Linked DNA regions of Homo sapiens. The protein of the gene in region 2 purifies or fractionates together with the protein of the main gene of each other region. This does not show direct contact. Each region holds a gene or a part of one and is shown on either strand. Other genes may lie near its edges.

Evidence for each region.
Region 1: the proteins of TNS4 (region 2) and QPRT purify together in Homo sapiens (affinity purification with mass spectrometry; one large-scale study listed by BioGRID and IntAct). This does not show direct contact.

Annotation. Positions count from the first base shown.
Region 1 is NC_000016.10:29,695,947-29,699,283, reverse strand, and holds the end of QPRT (nicotinate-nucleotide pyrophosphorylase [carboxylating]), read right to left. Parts: intron 2,292-3,337; coding exon of another isoform or gene 2,289-2,291; coding exon 2,157-2,288; intron 2,086-2,156; coding exon 1,873-2,085; 3' UTR 585-1,872; downstream 1-584. UniProt on the Homo sapiens protein: Involved in the catabolism of quinolinic acid (QA).
Region 2 is NC_000017.11:40,494,932-40,498,748, forward strand, and holds part of TNS4 (tensin-4 precursor), read right to left. Parts: intron 1,590-3,817; 5' UTR 1,495-1,589; coding exon 1,056-1,494; intron 1-1,055. UniProt on the Homo sapiens protein: Promotes EGF-induced cell migration by displacing tensin TNS3 from the cytoplasmic tail of integrin ITGB1 which results in dissociation of TNS3 from focal adhesions, disassembly of actin stress fibers and initiation of cell migration.

The DNA.
Region 1 (3,337 bases), on a different chromosome or scaffold from region 2:
CCAGGATCCATTTCCTGTTCCCCCAGTAATGGAGTGCCCGCCCCAGCTCTCAGAGCTGGAGGATACTGGAGGGCTAACCCATTTCTGGGTTTAGGGGGAGCTTAAGACTCAGGCAGGCAGGTTCCTTTCGCTTTTTTAATGGAACGCTGTGGCTGCAACGAGCATTTTCCAGTTGGCCACAGCGCACCCCCACTTTGTCTTATTCCAGTTCCACCCATTTATTTTATCCGAATAGGTCCTGGAGGCACCGAGTTTGCAGCTCCTGGTACCCTCTCCTCACTTCTGCTCTGTCAGGCCCCAATGCCTGCCCAGATCCCAGATCCCAGTTCCCAGATCACCCCGGGGCTCAACTTTCCTCCCTTGATGCCCAGTGGAACCCCTGGTCCCATGGGGCTTCAGTTTCCCCAGTTCAGGCATAAGAAGCTGGGGTTCATCTGAGCGTGTCCATGTTCCCCCTGGAGGAAGGACGGGAGCAGGCAGGGTGGAGCTGGGATTAGAGGGGACAGGGCAGCTGCAGGTGGCACCTCTGGGCTGTGTCCTCTTGTAGCAGGACGAGCCACAGACAAAACTCCTCAGGCACCGGATTAAAGAAGGAAGAGGTTTATTTGGCCAGGAGCATTGGCAGACTTGCATCTTAATAGCTGAGATCCCTGAAAAAGAAATTCTTGGCCTTTTTAAAGGCTTACAACTCTAAGGGGTCCACGTGAAAGGGTCATGATATCTCAAGCAAGCGGGGAACGTGACTGGGGGCTACACGCATCAGCTAACAGAGCAGAAAGTTTTGCAATGCTTTTTCATACAATGTCTGGAATTTACAGATAACACAAGTAGTTTAGGTCAGGGGTTGATATTATTATTATTGTTACTTTTTTTTAACTACCAGGGCCGGGTGGTGTCGCCAAGGTCTTCTGGCTATTTATCTTACTTCTGTTTTGTTTTGTTTTCTAACTTTTTGCTTTCTCTCTTTCCTCCTGTCTTGTAAACTAGGCAAGGTGGGGGGAGGAGGGCAGCAGGAGTAGTAGTGGTCTCCTTCTTACTGTGGGACTGGCCCCTTTGGTTTAGGGTATCACCAAAGGCAGTGTCTAGGCCAGCCCAGTGTCTCTGCCCAGCAAACCTCCATCTGCTGTGCACTCACAGCCAGGCCATGCTGGTGTTTGGTACAGGTTGGGTGCATGAAGGATGAAGGTTTTGGCCTGTCTGGGGCTTTTGCCTGCCTTTCTTCCTTTCTTTCCATCCTTCCTTTCCCTCCCTCCCTCCCTCCCTCTCTCTTTCTCTCTTTCTTTCCTTTGTTTCTTCTTTGGAGACAGAGTCTCGCTCTATCACCCAGGCTGGAGTGCAGTGGCACCATCAGCTCACTGCAACCTCCACTTCCTGGGTTCAAGCGATTCTCCTGCCTCAGCCTCCTAAGTAGCTGGGATTACAGGCGCGTGCCACCACACCCAGCTAATTCTTCTATTTTTGGTAGAGATGGGGTTTCACCATGTTGGCCAGGCTGGTCTCAAACTCCTGAACTCAAGTGATCTTCCCGCCTCAGCCTCCCAAAGTGCTGGGATTACAGGTGTGAGCCATCGTGCCCGGCTGTCCCAGGTAACTTCTGACATTTGCTGACCCCTCACTATGTGCTCATTATCACCGCAGAACCCCATGTGGTTGATCCTTTATTAGACCCATTTTACAGATTAGGAAACTGAGATGAGCAGAGGTGAAGTCAGCCCTGACAGGTCACAGGAGCAGCAGGTGGCAGAGCCAGAGTTGGGCTCAAGCTAGTGCCAAATGTGCCCCATTGGCCACTGACCCTAAAGATGTGTGACCCAGAGGGTCCTGAGGAGCCACGTTAACCCATGGCCGGTGTCATCCTCTTCCGGTTTAGGACTAGTGGATTTTGGGCACTGGAGCCACCTCTTTGGCAAACAGCTTGAGGGAGAAATCAAGGGCTGGGGCCGCCTGGGTCAGCATCCCCATGGAGATGACGTCTATGTGCGGCCCGCAGAACTGGGGGAGGTTGTCCAGGGTGATGCCCCCACTGGCTTCCACAGCCACACTCGGGAACTGGGCCTTCAGCACGGTGGCCGTGGGGTGCAGCTCCTGCGGGACACAAGCCAAGGGGAGGTAAGAGCCCACCACAGATCCCTCCCCGGAGGCAGAGCCCACCTTACCTCTGGCTTGAAGTTGTCCAGCAGGACAAGGTCGGCACCAGCCTCAGCTGCCTGCACGGCCTCCTGCAGGCTGCTGCATTCCACTTCCACCTTCAGAGTGAAGTCAGCCGCCTGTCTGGCCGCCCGCACCGCCTGCTGGGCAGCCGGGAGGACAAGGGTGAGGACTGGGCCCAGCACCTGGCACTGGGGCGCAGGGAGCCGGGAGGGCGAGGGTGACGATAGGGCCCAGCACTGCAGCTGGGGCGCGGGGAGCCGGGACTGACATTTGAAAAGCTTCGGGTGGACCATGAACTTGGGGTTAATAAGGAAACCAGACTTTGGGGTTGTTTTTGCTTTGTTTTGTTTTTGAGACAGGGTCTCAACCTGTCGCCCAGGCTGGAGTGCAGTGGTGCAATGATAGCTCACTGCAGCCTCTACCTCCTGGGATCAAGTGATTCTCCCACCTCAGTCTCCCGAGTAGCTGGGACTACAGGTGCGTGCCACCATGCCCAGCTAATTTTTGTATTTTTAATAGAGACGACGTTTCACCATGGTGGCCAGGATGGTCTCTAACTCATGACCTCGTGATCCACCCATCTCAGCCTCCCAAAGTGCTGGGATTACAGGCGTGAGCCACCGCACCTGGCCACTGTTTTGTTTTTGAGTCAGGGTCCCGCTCTGTCGCCCAGGCTGGAGTTCAGTGCAGTCATAGTTCACTGCAGCCTCCACCTCCTGGGATCAAGTGATCCTCCCACCTCAGCCTCCCAAGTGGCTGGGACTACAGGGGCTTGCCCACAAGCATGGCTAATTTTTTAATTTTTTGTAGAGACAGAATCTTGCTATATGGCCCAGGCTGGTCTCAGACTCCTGGACTTAAGTAATCCCCCCAACTGGGCCTCCCAAAGTGCTGGGATTACAGGTATGAGCCACTGAGCCAGGATGTTTTATTGTAGGTTAAAATGACCACTTTTGTGGGTCAAAAAGTGGATGAATATCAGCAATATTTGGCATTTGGACCTGAGCTCAATTTGACTCAGAATATTAAAATTAGAAGGGGTGTTTAAGGGCATTTCACAGATGGGAAATAAGGTGCAGAGGGCTAGAGAGATGGGCTCAAGGCTGTGGTGCCAGTGACACTGGCTTCCCCTGTGTTGTCCTTTGCTCTTGAACATCACGCCACGCAGCAGCAGAACAAAGATAAA
Region 2 (3,817 bases):
ATGGCTGCTCCTTGATCCTCATCAAGAGCATACTTGAAACTCTTTGTTCAGGAAACTGAAGCCAGATGTAGGAATTTCCAGGTTCCTTTGGACTCGGTGGTGCCCTGGAATTGGCTTGTATCAGCTGGTTAAGAGCTGATTGTTAAATTTTCAGGATTTTGTCTAGCTAGTTACTAAACCCAGCCATTATGAATAATTACATTATGTACACTTACAATGAAATAACTTACATTAAAAACAAAGGTAATAAATACTTAAAATTCGTCACGTCCCAATTATTTTACGACAGTGTCTCCCCACCCTCCATACTATTATCTGTGCTCTCAGGGTTATTTACATCTATTGTGTTGGTGTGGTGGCAATGCTGTGTGACAGCCTGCTACTCCACATGTCTCCAGCTCCTCATTCAGTGACATCATGTTGGTAGTTTGAAATTGGCCACAGTGGGAGAATTCATACTGTGGAAATGGGCAGAAGCTTCAAATCAGCTCCCTCTGCCCCTGCTCCCCAACCAGAGAGCCAGGTAAACATTCACCAGCATACCACTGCTTGAACACTACCGGGTCCTTATCCTAAACAGATGCCCCAATCCTACCATTTCCAGCGTGGGCCTCTCCAGAAAGATACTCCCCTAAACAAGGACAGAGGTCCCAATAGCAATCCTACCAAAATTTCAGGGGGGCCCAGGTTAGGCTCTGAAGTGAGACACCCTAGGACAGTGGGGGTCAGGGATCCACATTTATTGAGCTCTTCTTTATGGGCACGGCACTGCACAAAACACTTTCCATAGGAGCTTATTTAAGTCCTCATAAAATCATAGAAAATCAGTATCTATCACTTTCCAAACTCAGGAACCAAATAGAATTGGCTAGTGAGGGAAGCTTGTATTTATCCCCTTTGTGTAGCACAGAAAACAGAGGGGTTAGTAACTTGGTTAGGTTTGCACAGCACCTCCCAACAGGACAGGGTCCCCTTCTCTGTACATAGGAAAATCCTTCTTCCTCATGAGGTCTGGCACCAAGCCCCCCTCCTGGTACTGTGCCCCAAATCCTTACCCAAGGCTTCAGATTCCTCCTTCTTTCTCATTGACATGGTGCTCTGGGCCAGCTCAGCCTGGGAGCCCCCAGTCCCTGGGGGAAGCAGCTGGAAGGTGGGGTCCAGTTCCAGGATCATCTGATTGAGGCTCTCCAGTGAGAAGTCAATGTAGGAGTCAAGGTCCTCTGGGGTCCCCAAGGCCTTCTCACCAGGGGACGGCAGGAAGCAGGTGGCTTTGGCCTCCACCTGTGGGGCTTGCTGGAGTCGGCCAGGGGGCCCCATGCAGGGCACGGGGGCCATCAGGGCCTGGGCTCCCCAGCCTTCCGTGGTGTAGTAAGAACACTGGGGTGGCAGGCTGGGGCTGGGTGCTGGGTGCAGGGTCCTCCTGGGCTCATCACAAGGCGCCAAGCTGACAGCATGGCCTCCTGCCAGCAGTGGGCTGGACATCACCTGGGACATGGTGGGGGTGGTGACCTCTGCAGTTTACCTCTGGTCTTCAACCAGCCTCACTGACATCCCAGAGATCTCACTTGCTAACCAGGAGCTCCCAGGATCTGAAAGAGTCCAAGAGTGGGAACGGAGTAATTTCTGTAGGTGAAGCCCCTGCCTCCCACCCTCCGTACAAAGGCTAAGTTATTCATTCATTTAAAAGCATGGATGCTGGAGCCAGACCACCTGAGTTTGCAGCCTGGCTCCACCACCTACTAGCTGTATAACCTTGGGCAAGTTAATTGACTTCTCTGTGCCTCAGTTCCCTCGTCTATAAAACAAGTTAATCATTGTAATGTGCTTAGAACAGTGCCTGGCACATAATAAGCATTATGTAAGTGATCATTAAATAAAATAACTTCAGTAGATGTTTATTGAACATCTACTACATCCCAGGTGTGTTTATTAAGTAAATACTACCTAACGTTTGCTGAGTAATTATTATCCACATAAGCTCTGGTATTTTTAGATAAAGGCTTTAAAAATCCTTATAACAACTGTATAAGGTAGGTATTATTATCCCATTTTACAGGGAGAGAACTGAGGCACAGAGAGGTAGGTAACTTGCCCAAGGGTCACACTGCCAACAAGTGTAGAGAAGGACTGGGCCCTCGGCTGCCTGATGTCTGAGCACCTGCACTTGGGCCGGTTGGTGAAACAGACAAGTAAGTGGGTGAACAACTGTAAGCAGTGTCACGAGAGAGGAGGGAAGGGACAGTGCACTTTTCTAGTTCAGTGGGGAGGTTAGGGAGGTCTTCCTGGAGGAAGGGACACGCAAAGGGAGATAAGAAGGAAAAGCAAGAGGTAGCTGCGCAAGTTGAGTAGGGATGAGGAGGCAGAGAGGAAGATTTAAGTTAGAGGGGATGAGCTGGGCGTGATGGCTCACACCTGTAATCCCAGCACTTTGGGAGTCTGAGGTGGGCTGATCCCTTGAGGTCAGGAGTTCGAGACCAGCCTGGTGAACATGGTGAAACCCCATCTCTACTAAAAATATAAAAATTAGCTGGCATGATGGCACGTGCCTGTAATTCCAGCTACTCAGGAGACTGGGGCAGGAGGATTGCTTGAAGCTGGGAGGCAGAGGTTGCAGTGAGCCGAGATCGAGCCAATGCACTGCAGCCTGGATGACAGAGCAAGACTCTGTCTCTAACTAAACAAATAAACAAATAAATAAACAAAGTAGAGGGGACCATTTGTGCAAAAGTCTGGCCAGCAGGGAAGCTCACAAGACCCTATTGAGCACCTGAGTAACAGAGCACCTGGGGTGGGTGGAGGAGATGGGGCGGGGGAGGCAGGCTGGCCAGATCCCGTAGGGCCTTGCAGGCTGGGCTCAGGACTGCCAGCTCAACCCTGAGGGCAACAGGGAGGCTCTGAAAAGTTTTGAGCTGGGGAGTGACATCATCAGATGATATTCATTTCCTTGGGGCTCATTTGGGAAAGAGATGTCTCAACCTCCTCATTTTCCTTACTGTGAAAAGTCCTTTCCATTGTCTAACCTTAATGCCACATGCTAGTTTCTTGTAGGTGGGGCTTGGTAAGGAGGTAAGAAGTTCTGGGACTGAGGCTGCCAAGAAAACTGTACAGAGCTGCAATGTGCTGGTTACACTCCCATTGCCTGCTCTGAGCTTTGCTGCTGGTCCCCAGCCCCCACCAACACCCCCCAACTCTCTTTCTTCTCGTTGCCAAAACGCCTCCTTTACGTCCTGTTTTGGAGTCAGACCTTAGCACTGGAAAAGGTATCTGAGACTAGCCTGGGAGAAGAGAAAGTGGACTCTGGGATCCGAAGGTTTAGATTTGACTTCTAGCTCAAATAGCTCCTTATGGTGTGACTCTGACCCTGAGTTTCCTCATCTGTGAGATGGTAATGAGAATTCCTGCACCCTCCCAGAGAGTGTTATGGAACCAGTGAGGTGCTCCTTGTGAAGGTAGTTAGGCAATTCTAAATAGTACTTAGAAATAAGGACTTATGGAGTATAACAGCCTCATAATAGTAGCTTCCATTTATTGAGCGCTGACCATGTGCCAAATAGTTTACATACGAATTACATTGGTAACTCAATCCTCTCACAGCTCTAGGAAGTACTGCACCCTATTGTCAGTCCTCTTGTTTTTTTTTCTTGAGACAAGGTGTCGCTCTGTTGCCCAGGCTAGAGTGCAGTGGCACAGTCATGGCTCACTGCAGCCTTGACCTCCTGGGGCTCAAGCGATTCTCCCAGCTCACCCTCCCGAGTAGCTGGGACTACAGGCTTGTGCCCTATACCCAGAGAATTTTTTGTAGAAAGAGGGTCTCACT